Linked DNA regions of Homo sapiens. The protein of the gene in region 1 purifies or fractionates together with the protein of each later gene. This does not show direct contact. Each region holds a gene or a part of one and is shown on either strand. Other genes may lie near its edges.

Region 1 (3,500 bases):
TGAAGTACACAGAAAAGCCTAGTACCAAAATCATATAAACCATATTACTTACATGTACTATAACTTCTGCCAATGATTCTGGTAATTGTTATTAATTTAATATTCACTATAATTATAATTTTAAATCTATAAATAAATATTATTCAAATATTAATTGGTGGTACTAGTACTAAAAAAAAAGTGCTAAAATACTAGATATGTCAAAATGTTATGGCAAAACAACTGTCACGACAAGCTACGCTGTCAATTTAGAAAAGCACCCTGTAACAATGAGAGTTAATGACAAAAATAAAAAGGGACTTTTACGTTTGTAAAATGTCAAAGAATAACAGAAAAAAATTGCTGTCATGACTGCAACACCAAAGTCACTATAAAGTATCACTTTAGCGCCTGACTAAAGCCTCGGGTACTCTTTTCCAGTAACAGTTTTTATTACAATATAATGAACATATCATAAAGCTTATTCTTTTAAAGTACGTAATTTAGTTGTTTTAAGGATAGTTACAAACCTGTGCACTGATCACCACTATCTAATTCTAGAACATTTTCATCACCCCAGAGAGAAACTCTGAACTCACTTAGAAGTCACTCACTCCCATCCTCTGGCAATCCACTTTCTTTCTCTATAAATTTACCAGAATATAAATTCTCGATATTTCATAAATGAAATCATACAGTATGTGTCTCTTAGTGTCTGGTTTCTTCCACTTAGCATAATGTTTTCAAGTTTCATCTATGTTGTGGCCTGTATCAGTATTTCCTTCTTCCTTATAGCTGAGTAACATTTCATTGTATGGATATATCACAGTGTTTATCCATTCATCAGTTGATGCATGTTCTGGTTGTTCCCAGCTGAAGTACTTTTTTTGATGACTTGAATAGACACAGATTTTACCAAAAGTATTAACTATGCTTAAAAGATATGCTTAAAAGCAAAAACAATATTCTTAGCACACATCACCATACTTAAATTTTATTGAGTTTTTAATTATGTGAAGTCTTCAGAAATGCATTCCTTATAAAATCAGACAGTTCTGCGTAGGCGGCCAGGTTTATTAACAGTCTTCCCATAATACTCTTGATCATATCACAGATTGCCTGGCTATAATGAAGGGCATTAAGGCTTGTTTCCCTTTGAGGCCACCCAATTCTAGAATTTACTGAAAACTTTAGGCACTATAATTATAATTAGTCAATATCTTTATTCTAAGGCAGCATTTCCCAAAGTGTGTTCCTCAATAAAATAAGCTTAGGAAACACCAAATTAAATAAAGTCATACAGCAAAGAATTTCTTACTGCAGAACTTCCCAGAGTCTTAATATGCTAACGCACATTATGACACATCAAGAGGAAACCTTTTAAGGCATTTTCCGAAAGGAAATATGCTTTAAACTCTAATTATCACTTGGTCCCACTCGCCCATCTTTACCCCCAAGAAACAGAGTCACATTGCTTTTGACTGGCACTTTACATCAACATGAAAGGTGATCCAGTTCATTTTCTAGCTTACAGTAGACAAACAGTGCAGGGTCTAATCAAGTGGCACAGTTTTCCATGTTCTCCAAAGTCAAACCTTTATGTACAGTAGTTTTATTACTTTACATCAAGTGCTTTGGAATTCCAGAAACAGTCATGTTGAAATAAATTTAAACCTACTGCATGTAGTATTTGAAGTCATTTCTATCCATTTTAAGAGAAAAAAAAATTAGTAAATAAATACTCAAACACCTTCAGATGCAAGCATAAAGTTTTTTATAATCTACCATGCTGGACTAGCAAAACTCTTTGCTTGGCCTTCTTTTGAGAGGTGTAAACTTTAACACTAGAGACTAAATAGAGTAAGTCCCAAGAGTGAGTTGCTTGCTTTCTACTTAAAAGAACATTTTATATAAAATATTATTTCTCCTCAAATCATTCAACTGAAGCTGCTTTTCAGAACTGTATTCTTCTATTAGCTTCACCCAATAACTAACTCCCTAAATTTTTCTTCAGTCATAAAAACTTTTGGAAAATATCAATGTGTTATATCAAGTTTTACATGGCAACTTAAGAAACCATAAAAAACAAGTAAGTTCATTCACAGTCATACAATTACAAACTAAAAAAAATGCCTATCAATTTTTTTTTAAATGCCCAAAGTAGATTTATTTTCCCCATATGAAGGTTGAAAAATTATCTCTTACCTAGTGATATCATAGACCATAAGAGCTCCCGCAGCTCCTCTGTAGTAGCTCCGTGTAACAGCCCTAAATCGCTCCTGTCCTGCCGTATCCCAAATCTGCAGTTTTATTTTTTGGCCACTAACTTCGATTATTCTTGTACCAAATTCAACACCAATTGTGTGAGGACAATCAGCCATAACTGTTAAGGAGGAAAAAAAGTAATAGCCCAATTTTCAGAAAACTTCAAATTAAGCCTAGAGGGGGAAAATCCACTAAATAAGCAAATGGCTTACTAATACTTACAGGCTATAAATAGACTAAAGCTACCGCTAAAAAAAAAATTAACAAACACCCAGAAGTAAGAAGTCAGGGAAATGTGACTGTACTAGAATCGGGGTCAGCAAACTTCTAGAAAGGACCAAGCAGAAAATATTTTAAGTTTTGCAGGTCAAAAGGTCTTTGTCACAAACTACTCAACTCTGCCACTGAGGCATAAAAGCAGCCAGAGACAATATGTAAAACAGGCATGGTTGTATTCCAATAAATTTTATTCACAAAAACAGGCAGTGACTGGATTTGCCCCACTGGCCACCGTTTGCTGACCCCTCGACTAAAATAATCTGCTAAGTAAAAATAAGGATTTTAATTAATTCTTCACAATATCAACATTATACCATTTAGCCTTCTTACAATCATTATCTATAACAGATCAATCAATGGTCTTGGTACCCTAGGAGTTGTTAGTCAAACAGATTCTTATCCCAGAAAATATCAGTGTCTCAAAGAAAATCAGCATGTTTTATATATATATGCATATATTTTAGAGACAGGGTCTTGCTCTGTCACCCATGTTGGAGTGCAGTAGCACAAGCATAGCTCACTGTAACCTCGAACTTCTGGGTTCAAGCAAGCCTCCCACGTAAGTCTCCCAAAGCACTACTGGGATTACAGGCATGAGCCACCACACCTGGCTAACATATACTACTTATTATACAATGACAAGTTATATATGTCTAAGCCAATTAACAAATTTATTAGTCCTTTCCTTATAATGAGGCCACTTAAAACCTAAACCCACCATTCTCCAGTACAAGGACACAGACTTCTGGGCACTTCATAAAATGTTACATCAAACCTCTGTGGTAAGCAGCACAAAAATGTCAAAGAAATAATTTCAACTATACAGAAACACTTTCAACTATATTTAGCATATCAGTTACAACACATTGGTCCCTTCTATCACCCAAGAAAGAGTAGAAAGAATTCCATTTTAAGTATTTCAAATCTGTTATTTAACAAATGATACATGCAGCAAATTTCTCCTAATAAGACAATCA
Region 2 (3,244 bases), on another chromosome or scaffold:
AGATGCACTGGCACTGACGGCCAGGATGGCGGAAATGGCCATCCCCTCTGAGGACCTTGTAGGCGGTGAGGGACCCATGCTGGGCCAGAAGGAAGACAAACATGGTAATTGCAGCTGTTCTTGGGGTAGGGCGGGGAGCCCAGAAGGTCTGATCTGGCCTCTGCTTTTTGGCCCAAGACTCCATCAGGGAAATCTATCTAGGGCTCTCCCCTTGTCCTTTCAAAGGGATACTGCCCCTTCCTCGTCTTGCAGAGGAAACCCTGGCTAGGAACTGAGCTAGTTTATGGAGTCTGGAATTCCTGGAGAGCTTGGGTTCACCTTCTCACCCCTGTAATCCAGGCTGCTCCTGCTGGAAAAGTAGAAACAGAATCCAAAAAAGGTCTGGACTCACCCGGTGGTTCCCAGCCAGGGTTTCTGCTGCAAGGTGAGGAAACATCCATGGCTTGTACAGATGTGAGTCTTTGATGAAGCCCCCAGGCAGGCACCAAGGTGATGGGACTCAGGGCCTTGGCTTTTAGATACATCCCAGTCCCTGACTGACATCTGACCATGAGGGCTGGATGGGTGGGAACAAGGAGGAGTAGATGGCAAAAGTACCTGAGCCCACTTCCCAGCCACAGGGTGACCCTGGCACTGTAAAAACCCTTTGTCAGTCATGCCAGAAGGTTCTAGAACTGCCCACCTCTTCCATTTCAGTCCTGCTGAAACCCCTTAGCCTATTTCCGACTCCTCTGTCCATGCTCTGAGTTCAGCTGGGCAGTGTGTGGGCTATCACCCCTTTCATTTAGACCTACCTAGCTGGCCCCCATCTGCAGAGCCTTCCTTAGCACCATTAGGCCTTCTACTTGTGTCCATTTGAAGCAGGAGGGGCTGGATTTGGAAAAGTCTTTGAAGTGAGAGCACCACGCTTGTCTTCGTTAGAAACTCTTAACTGCAGAAAAAAGTTCCAGATGGCAAGGGAGCCCTTAAGTGGAGATTAGGTTGCATTAGACTCCAAAACCAGAAAGGAAAAAGGGTGATGGGAGTGGAGACGTGATTGGATTCAGGCCCAGAACCTGTGACCATGCTCTGAGCTCAGACTTGGGGAGGGAGGGGTGTGGCTCCCACCCCTTCCAGTTAAGACCTGCCTAGCAGAGCCCCAGTCTCCAGCCCCTTCCCTAGCACCAGAGTCTGGTCAAAATGCCACAGAAAATGAGCTGCTCTGCCAGCAAGCTGTGGAGCTGCCTCCTCTCCAGGCCTGGCATCCCTTGGTCAGCCCCTCCTGGGAGGGCACAGCCGTATTACAGTGCCAGTGTGCCTGGCCATCAGCATCTTCACCCTTCCCAGTCTGTGTGGGGAGGCTGTAAACCCCGTGGATTCAGCTCCGTGTGGAGTTTCTGTGCTATGGTGGGACTGCTCATTTTGCCCCATCATCCCTTTGGCCTCCCACACACCTGCCCCTTCCCAGGGATCACGTGTGTCTCCAGCCTTTCACCTTTCTATTGCAATGGTGGCCTTTGTCCAGGCAAGAGCAGGCCTGATGGATGTACTGGTGAGCCCCACAGTTGGATGTCAGCTCAGCCGTCCAACTGGGAGGAACAGTAGGCTCAGTTCCTCCCTGACCCCTGACACCAGGCCGCAGTGGGCATGCACAGGCCCACAGAAAGTCAGTCTGGGTTTTGCTTTTCTCGTGAGCATCACAGTTAAAGAAGCGCTCATTGAGCAACTACAGTGCACTTGGTCTTCTGCAAGTGCTGGGCACCTAGAGATAGGAACAGTCATGGTCCCTGCTCTTAAGGAACTGATGACCTGGTGGGGCCCTGTTGTCTTCAAGGAACCCAGAAGCCACTGGGCCCCAAAGGTGGAACTGAAGGACTGGGGGCAGCTGGCTCTCAGCCTGCCACCTCTGCACTGCCTGCCTTTAAAGAACCCCACCCCACCCCATGATGGCCCCCTCTGTTCCCCTTGTATTTCAGTGACTGTGAATTGAGGTTAGGAAGGCACACCTGCCCTTCTGTGTGCTCTCTCCACACGAAGGATGACAGATACTGTGAATTCAGCCCTCACGGCCAACTGTGAAGGGGATGGAGAAGGCTGGGAGGGCTCGGGGAGAGCTCTTAGGGGCTGCGGAAGTCCCCACGGGGGTCTGAGAGTGGAGCCCAAGCTTTGGCCCTCCAGGCATCCCCAGTTTCCAGCCTCACCTCTGAAGCCCTGCTGCCTTTAACCACCAGAGCCGCAGCCCCCTGGGTTTCTGTCTAACTCGAAGTCTTGAATCCTAGCTAGTTTGGGGTTGTGAGCAGTGTGTAGCAAAGTTGATCTCTCCATGTCACCAAATCAAAACACCCTCTGTCATCCTACGGCATTTCCTCTTGAGGTCACAGAGAGGAATGGCAAGCCCTGGAAACCTGTGTTATTCTGTGTTGATTTGGTGTGGGGGGAGGGTGGAGACGTAAATGTGAAGCCAGTTGGAGTTTGTGCTATGCAGCAGTGTTAGCCAGGATCTCATCAGCGTGCAAACCTAGCATCTTCTGTGGCCACAAGCCACACACTTGCTTTTTTTGAATGTGATGTAAAATTTGTACAGTAAAGTTTTTATATTTTCTATCAACTACATTTGTCTTCCAGACATGCTATTAATTTAAATTAAAATGGTTAGTATTAACAAACATGCTGTATCGGGTTTTTTTGCCACTGGCAAGAACATGCCCTCTGTGCTAAGCCAGGCCTGGGTGTCTGGAGTTTGTGAATAAAGTTATACCAAGGTGTTCTGGGGCTTGTCTTTGCTTTGGTCAGTTCCAGCTGAGTCCTGGGGACCATTTGGATGGGTGGCATGGGAATGGATAGGTCTGGGGTGACTGAACCCCTGGTCTATAGATTAAGGAGCTCCTTCCAAAGGAAGAAGTTATGCCAGGACCTCAGTGGCAGGTGTTTCTAAACAGATGGAGGAATGGAGAAGGCACAGCGTCAATGGCCCACAATGCGCAGAGGAAGATCATCCAGGCCCCAGCAGCAACAAAGCCATGAGCAGGCCCAGCATCTCCTGAGCTGGAGATGCCTTAGCCTTATGGAAGCCTTGGAGGGATGAGGTGGTGTTCATCTGAATCCAATATCTAGGAGCCCCTCATTGCCAGTTATATATACAGATAGGTGGAGAAGAGGTACTTTCTAAACACCATCTCACTTTAATCCTCACAAGGCCATGAGGTAAGAATTGTGATGTTTCAGCTGAGGAAAATGAGAAACGGAGAGGTTAAGGTATTCACCC
Region 3 (3,500 bases), on another chromosome or scaffold:
AACACCTAACTTAGTATCTAGTTGACTCAAGATGAGAGTTCTCAATGCTATAATTTGAATGTCTTTGAAAATTCCACTAGTATTATACAAGCTTTTTCTTTTTCTATACTCAGAGAGTTACTAATGCAATAAGCTTTGTCAAATGACGTCGTAGTGTAGTCCAAATTCATTGTATAAGGACTTATCACAGTACATGGATTTGTAATCATGTGTCCTCAGAGCATCCTCGGAACTTAGTAAGGTGTGTTTTCCAGTTTTACAGATAAATAAGCCTAAGCTGAGAGAATTAGGTAATTACTTAGGTCAGTAACTTAAATACATTATGAATCACGAGTTATTTTGATATCAAGACCTCTTTCTAGCAATGCTGCCATATTGTACTCATCATGTTCATTTCAGTATGGTTCTCATCTATATTGAACTGTAGATTCTGTGTTAGCATTTATTACCTCTGCTCCAGTATTGATTCTTTTATGTTAGGTTTGGCAGTAAGGGCCTTAGAAATTCCTCACAGTGAATTTTTAAGATCTGGAAGAGACTAGTTTGAAATATTCATTTTAATATGTACCACAGAGGTAATGGATTCTAATTATCTGGTTATTGAAGTTTGTCAAAAGAAAAATTGTACTTCCACTGAAGAAAAAAATAGCTAGTCTTTGCACTCTGAATAACTTTGTTTCATTAGGGTTTTTTGGTCAATTTTTCTTTAAGAGACAGGGTCTTACTCTGTTGCCCACACTCAAGGGATCCTCCTGCCTGAGCCCTCCACAATAGCTGGGACTACAGGTTTGCACCACCATGCCCAGCTAATTTTTTCAAAAACTTTTTGTGGAGATGGGGTCTTGCTGTGTTGCCCAAGCTGGTCTTGAACTCCTGGCCTCAAGCAATCTTCCTGTCTCAGCCTCCCAAAGTGTTGGGATTACAGGCATGTGCCACTGTGCCCAGCCTGTCAGTTTTAAATATGGAAAAATTATAACTTATAAAATTAGTGTATATTTAGATATTTCTTTCCGTACACATTTTGTCAGTGTGACTACTGGTAACAAATGTCAAAACTCTTGTGAGATAATTTCTAGTTCTTTGGTTTGTTTGCTGCTGATTTGGAAAGTGATGTCAGATCTTAATTTATATGTGGCTGTTGCTCATGTTTTGCTTACCTCTGCTGCAAAGGGCAGGGTCCATGTGACTGCCTGGCCACAATCGTTTTCTATGTGTTTAGCCCTTAAGAGTGCTGAGAATGTTTGTTGAGTAACAGCTTCCCTCCAGAGTGGTCAGTTCTCACATCACATGAGGTAGTTAATGAAGCCTCTTACTTTCCAGCTTCTGTAAGAAAAGTAGTCAGATATCATGGTCCAAGGAATGGCCTTATGCATACCTGGAGTCCTTATACCTATCCCATTTTAATTATATTGGCTTTAAAATCTTCAAGGTAAAAAGAGGCAATTTGAACCCCTTCTTTGTTGCCCTGAAAAATTCCAAGGAAAATTTCTTTGTCACAAGCTGAGCTAGGCATAATGAAAGCACTCTGGAAAAAGGAGGTAGAGAGTACTAAGAGATATCCAGCAATTATTGCTAAGTGGTAGGATTGGCATCGGGCACGTTATGTATATTTTTTATCTTTTCCTCTTAATAGCTAAATATGAGATATTCCCCCTATTTTAAAGATGAAGACTTTGAAATGCAGGGTAAGTGGTGATAGTAGGATATGAAGGCAAGATTGGGCTGGGCACAGTGGCTCATGCCTGTAATCCCAGCACTTTGGGAGACTGAGGTGGGTAGGTCACCGAGACCAGCCTGGCCAACAAGATGAAACCCTGTCTGTACTAAAAACAAAAATTAGCCAGGTGTGGTGGTGGGTGCCTGTAATCCCAGCTACTTGGGAGGCTGAGGCAGGAGAATCGCTTGAATCCAGGAGGTGGAGGTTGCAGTGAGCCAAGGTCACGCCCTTGCACTCCAGCCTGGGTGACAGAGTGAAACTCCGTATCAAAAAACAAAACAAAACAAAAATTAGCCAGGTGTGGTGGCACATGCCTATAATCCCAGCTACTTGGGAAGCTGAGACAGGAGAATCGCTTGAACCTGGGAGGTGAAGATAGTGGTAAGCCAAGCTCACGCCACTGCACTGCAGCCTGAGCGACTGAGCGAGACCTTGTCGCAAAAAAAAAAAAAAAAATTGGGAGGCCAAGGCGGGCAGATCACGAGGTCAGGAGATCGAGACCATTCTAGCTAACACGGTGAAACCCCGTCTCTACTAAAAATACAAAAAATTAGCCAGGTGCAGTGGCGGGCGCCTGTAGTCCCAGGTACTCGGGAGGCTGAGGCAGGAGAATGGCCTGAACCCGGGAGGCAGAGCTTGCAGTGAGCCAAGATCGCACCACTGCACTCCAGCCTGGGCGACAGAGCGAGACTCTGTCTCAAAAAAAAAAAAAAAGTCTTTCCTGGAATTCTCCAACACTTGAGCGCTTATCTTCAGTATAATTGCGTTATATTACTTAGTCAATTCAGTGCTTATTGATTTGAGATAACTGTTTGCTACTTGTTTGTAGGAGACGCACATTGATTGGGAAAGGGGGAGTGAGTGAGGTTTCTCTTTCAACTGAAGACCCTACCATAAGGTCAGGTGTATGTTAGATTTTCCTCTGCTGCCTTTTCAGTGCTGTGTTCATATGGTGTTCCTTTTCTTTTTTTCTTTTTCGTTTTGAGACAGAGTATCACTCTGTTGCCCAGGCTGGAGTGCAATGGCGTAATCTCAGCTCACCACAACCTCCGCCTCCGGGGTTCAAGCGATTCTCCTGCCTCAGCCTTCCTTGTAGCTGGGACCACAGGCGCGTGCCATCATGCCTGGCTAATTTTTGTATTTTTAGCGTAGATGGGGTTTCTCCACGTTGGTCTGGCTGGTCTCGAACTCTTGCCCTCGTGATCTGCCCACCTTGGCCTCCCAAACCAAAGTGCCTGGATTACAGGCGTGAGCCACCACGCCTGGCCTGGTGTTCCTTTTCTTTTCATCTTTACTTAACAGCTTTCCCCAAGGACACAGAAAAAAATAATAGAAAGTAATACTGTTTTCTTTTGGGAAAGAGGGTAGTATTGAACATGTATTTTTGAAGCAGTTAGCATGTGGAAGTAAAAGGTACTTGTCAGTGATGGCAGTCACTTAGTAACCTAGTTGTTGTAGTTAGGATTTTTGTTGGTTGTAGTTGATGAAAACCCACTTGAAATTAGCTTAAGCCAAAAGAGATAATTTACTGGACTCCAAAGAAAGGTGCAGGAAGGGCAGGGGTATAATGTAGCTTGGTTTATGACCGTATAGAGCCTGTCAGTCCGACTTAATCAGACTCTCCCTCTCTTTTTTTGCCTTTTCAGGCTTGTCTGCTTCACTCCTCCTTTCTGCAGACCTATATTTCCACCTGGCTAGCCTCTGAATGTCACATTAATTAGACTTTCTTCATATTGTCTGCTCCTAAGTTTGAAAATCTGGAGAAGGGATTCTTTAGGTATCC
Region 4 (3,500 bases), on another chromosome or scaffold:
GTGTTAGATACAAGGGTGACTCTGGTGACCAGGAATAGAAGCCAAGTGCAATGCCCTCAGAATCTGTGGCCCTGCAAACCAGACTGAACCCGTGCTGTTTATCCCACTCCTGACAGTTTATCCCACTCTTGACACTTCCCCTTGAGCTGCCAGATATTGTTGGAGCAGTGCAGCATAAGAAAGGAGAATGAACACTGGACTGGGAATGAGCAAACCTCTTTAATCTTATTCCATCTCTGATTCTGTCTAGTTGTGTGGCTTTTGGCATGTCTCTGACAAGTGACCATTGGTTGCTTATCTGTAAGTGGAAAGGTTAGACAAGGTCATCTCTTCTGTCTTTAAACTTCTGTGATTTGAGCAAGGCAAGAACAACGTGAGATCCTTCATTGGATGAGTGGTACTGCCACTTCCTCCGCATTCATAGAGAGAAAAGGTAGTTAAATAATGTATCTTTATCTTTCCTTTTTGCTCTTCACCCGATATTGGTGAGTAAAGAGCCACAGTCAATGACAGTGACAAGATAAATGAAGTTCCAGGCTCATGCTGATATTTGTGGGTCCAAGTGTAATATACTGTAATATATTGTCTTAACAGGTACCTGTAGGGCAGCTTGAGAATGAAAGAAAAAGCAGCTCTTTTTGCTTTTTTTGGCTTTGACACATAAAAGATGTCAGTATCTAGGTATTTCTAAACCTGTAGAGGGATTTTCTTTAGTCTTTTCCTCCCAGCCAGCACTTGGTGTAGTGGAGGCCACATTTCTCATTAGCTTGTCCTATGGCATATAAAAGTAAACAATAATGAAAAGGTCATTAGTGTAATACATATTTAGGCTCAGTTACTACCAGTTAAAGCGGTGCTTAAAAATTTAAATTTAAGCACCTGTTCACATATTTAAGTAGCATTACTAATTAAAAATTAACTCCTTTTCTAGAACTAAAACTGAGAATTGGTATTTTGGTAACCATTCTGCTAGGAAGCTCTACCACATTACTCAATATTATGGGATCCCTGAAGTGAACTGAAAGGGAGAAAGTTCAGTGGTGATGTTGCAGCTTTCTACCTTCCTTTGTCAAAACTTCCTGTTTCAGTAGGGAAATGGGAAGAGTGAGAGAGTTGTTTCCTTTCTCTTTCCTGTCTTCCTCTCTGAAGACAAAGTCACTGTGAACTCATTAAAAGGAGTCTAGATTGGTTAATTTGGGTTGACTAGCTAGATTCATTTGAAATGAATAGCTATAATATTTTCTTTGGTATTCTTTTTTTTTTTTTTTTTTTTTTGAGACGGAGTCTTGCTTTGTCGCCCAGGCTGGAGTGCAGTGGCACAATCTCGGCTCACTGCAAGCTCTGCCTCCTGGGTTCACGCCATTCTCCTGCCTCAGCCTCCACAGTAGCTAGGACTACAGGCACCCGCCACCACGCCTGGCTAATTTTTTTGTATTTTTTAGTAGAGACGGGGTTTCACCGTATCAGGATGGTCTTGATCTCCTGACCTTGTGATCCACCTGCCTCAGCCTTCCAAAGTGCTGGGATTACAGGCGTGAGTCACCGCACCAGGCCTGGTATTCTTTACTAAAACATAAATCATTAAAATAATTTGATTCATGCTTTGCTTTAAAAAACTGTTCAGTCATCTACTTTAGCTCACCTCCCTGGAAAATGAATTGTGTCAGAACATTCAGATATGCTTTCAACTAAATAATGTTTATGTTATAGATACATAAACAAAATCTTAAAAAATAAATACAAAGCATTCTTTATTTCACTATTCTTTATATGCAAAGCTAGTTTCATGGATTATGGCATGGCATTTTTGTTTGTTGGATGGTTTTTGTGTTTAATCACAGTTTTGGATTAACCTCTATGTTTTATATTAAGAAAGTTGACCTAGGAGTTGGGAGACATAGATTCTATTCTTAGTACTGCCACAAAAAAATTGTATAACCTTGGATAAACTACCAGATCTCTTTAGACTTTAATTTCTTCATGTATAAAGTGAGAGGGGCTTAGATTTGAAAATCTTTATGGTCCCAAATAGTTCTAAATCATAACTTGTGAATTTCTGTCTTTTGAGGAAAAAAATAGATTTTTAAAAAGTACTAAAATGACCATTTTGTAATACCATCTCCTGCATCTGTTTTTCCCTGTGGCACTACGTTTTCTTCTGGTTATGCTCTGAACATAACCCCCTTGACTCTATCCTACCGTTCTGCCTGTGCCCTTGTTATACTAATTTTAGTTATCCTTTTTGTTTTGGATTTTTTTACGTCTCTTTGCAAATACAGAGACCAAAAGTGGAACCGACAACCACGCTGGCCTGTGAATGCTGAGTCTGATTCTTTTATGGCATTTTTGTTGTCCAGGGAGGTCGAATTACCTTCTGAATTAAAATCCTATACGCTTTATGCTCTGCTATTCGGGAGAACAGTGTTATTCTGAAGATAGCATTGAGTTTTATAAGATTTGAGCCTTGAGACTGCCACTTACTATTAGGTTGCCATAGGATTCTTGGGCTAGTCATTTAACCTCTCTAAGCCTCAGCTTCTATTGCTTAATGTATACAACCTGTTTCTTGCCCAGGAGGCTGTGAGGATTGAGTAATGTTATACATCTGAAAGTGTTTTCTAAAATATAAAGATTTATGACCTTATTGTAGTTGGTTCCACCCCAGTACAATATGCATTCTGAAGTCAGTATTTATCGAGTACCTACTCTGAGGAGAATCAGTAAGAAGTTTATAATCAGACTGGGGATTTATATAAAGTTAAGTGTTACGCACCATAAGAAAGCTATAGCCTAAATTTCTGCAAAAGTTTAGAGAGATTATTTCTGGTTGGAGGTACTTAACAATAGGACTATATTTCTTACATTTATTTTGTAGGCCATTATGTATTTAAAAAGCCATTCTTGGACTTAGGCAGGCTTTTCCTTATTGTGCTAGTACCATTTGATTTTTATTCATAAATACACTAGCTTGGTTGTTTTCTATAACTAGCAACTATTTCTACTTTTTTTTTTTTGCGATGACTCCAACTCTTCATGTCATTTGCTAATTTACTTCCATTTTCATCTTCTGGTTCACTGTTGAAGAATACTAAATTTTGATCCAGTTTTGATCCAGGATTTACTTTTTTTTTTTTTTTTTTTTGAGACTGGGTCTTGCTCTGGCTGTCACTGAGGCTGGAGTGCAGTGGCATGATCCTGGCTCACTGCAACCTCTGCCCTTCTGGTTCGAGTGATTCTTCTGCCTCAGAATCCTGAGTATCTGAGATGACAGGCACCTGCCACCATGCCTGGCTAATTTTTTTGTATTTTTTAGGTAGAGACAGGGTTTCGCCATGTTGGCAAGGCTGGTCTCCAACTGCTGGGCTCAAGTGATCCAATCGCCTTGGTCTCCCAAAGTGTTGGGATTACAGGCATGAGCCACTCACTGCACCTGGCCCTTTTAGTATATTTCTTAAAATATCTTTCAAGATTGGCTTTGAAACTATGGTGACTTTCTAGCA

The links. The genes of interacting proteins can lie anywhere in the genome.
Region 2: the proteins of RAB14 (region 1) and KSR1 purify together in Homo sapiens (co-immunoprecipitation; one large-scale study listed by IntAct). This does not show direct contact.
Region 3: the proteins of RAB14 (region 1) and NRBF2 purify together in Homo sapiens (affinity purification with mass spectrometry; one large-scale study listed by BioGRID and IntAct). This does not show direct contact.
Region 4: the proteins of RAB14 (region 1) and VPS13C purify together in Homo sapiens (affinity purification with mass spectrometry; one large-scale study listed by BioGRID and IntAct). This does not show direct contact.

Annotation. Positions count from the first base shown.
Region 1 is NC_000009.12:121,188,370-121,191,869, forward strand, and holds part of RAB14 (ras-related protein Rab-14), read right to left. Parts: intron 2,363-3,500; coding exon 2,185-2,362; intron 1-2,184.
Region 2 is NC_000017.11:27,623,692-27,626,935, forward strand, and holds the end of KSR1 (kinase suppressor of Ras 1), read left to right. Parts: 3' UTR 1-2,744; downstream 2,745-3,244.
Region 3 is NC_000010.11:63,136,328-63,139,827, forward strand, and holds part of NRBF2 (nuclear receptor-binding factor 2), read left to right. Parts: intron 1-3,500. UniProt on the Homo sapiens protein: May modulate transcriptional activation by target nuclear receptors. Can act as transcriptional activator (in vitro). Involved in starvation-induced autophagy probably by its association with PI3K complex I (PI3KC3-C1).
Region 4 is NC_000015.10:62,050,448-62,053,947, reverse strand, and holds part of VPS13C (intermembrane lipid transfer protein VPS13C), read left to right. Parts: intron 1-3,500. UniProt on the Homo sapiens protein: Mediates the transfer of lipids between membranes at organelle contact sites. Necessary for proper mitochondrial function and maintenance of mitochondrial transmembrane potential.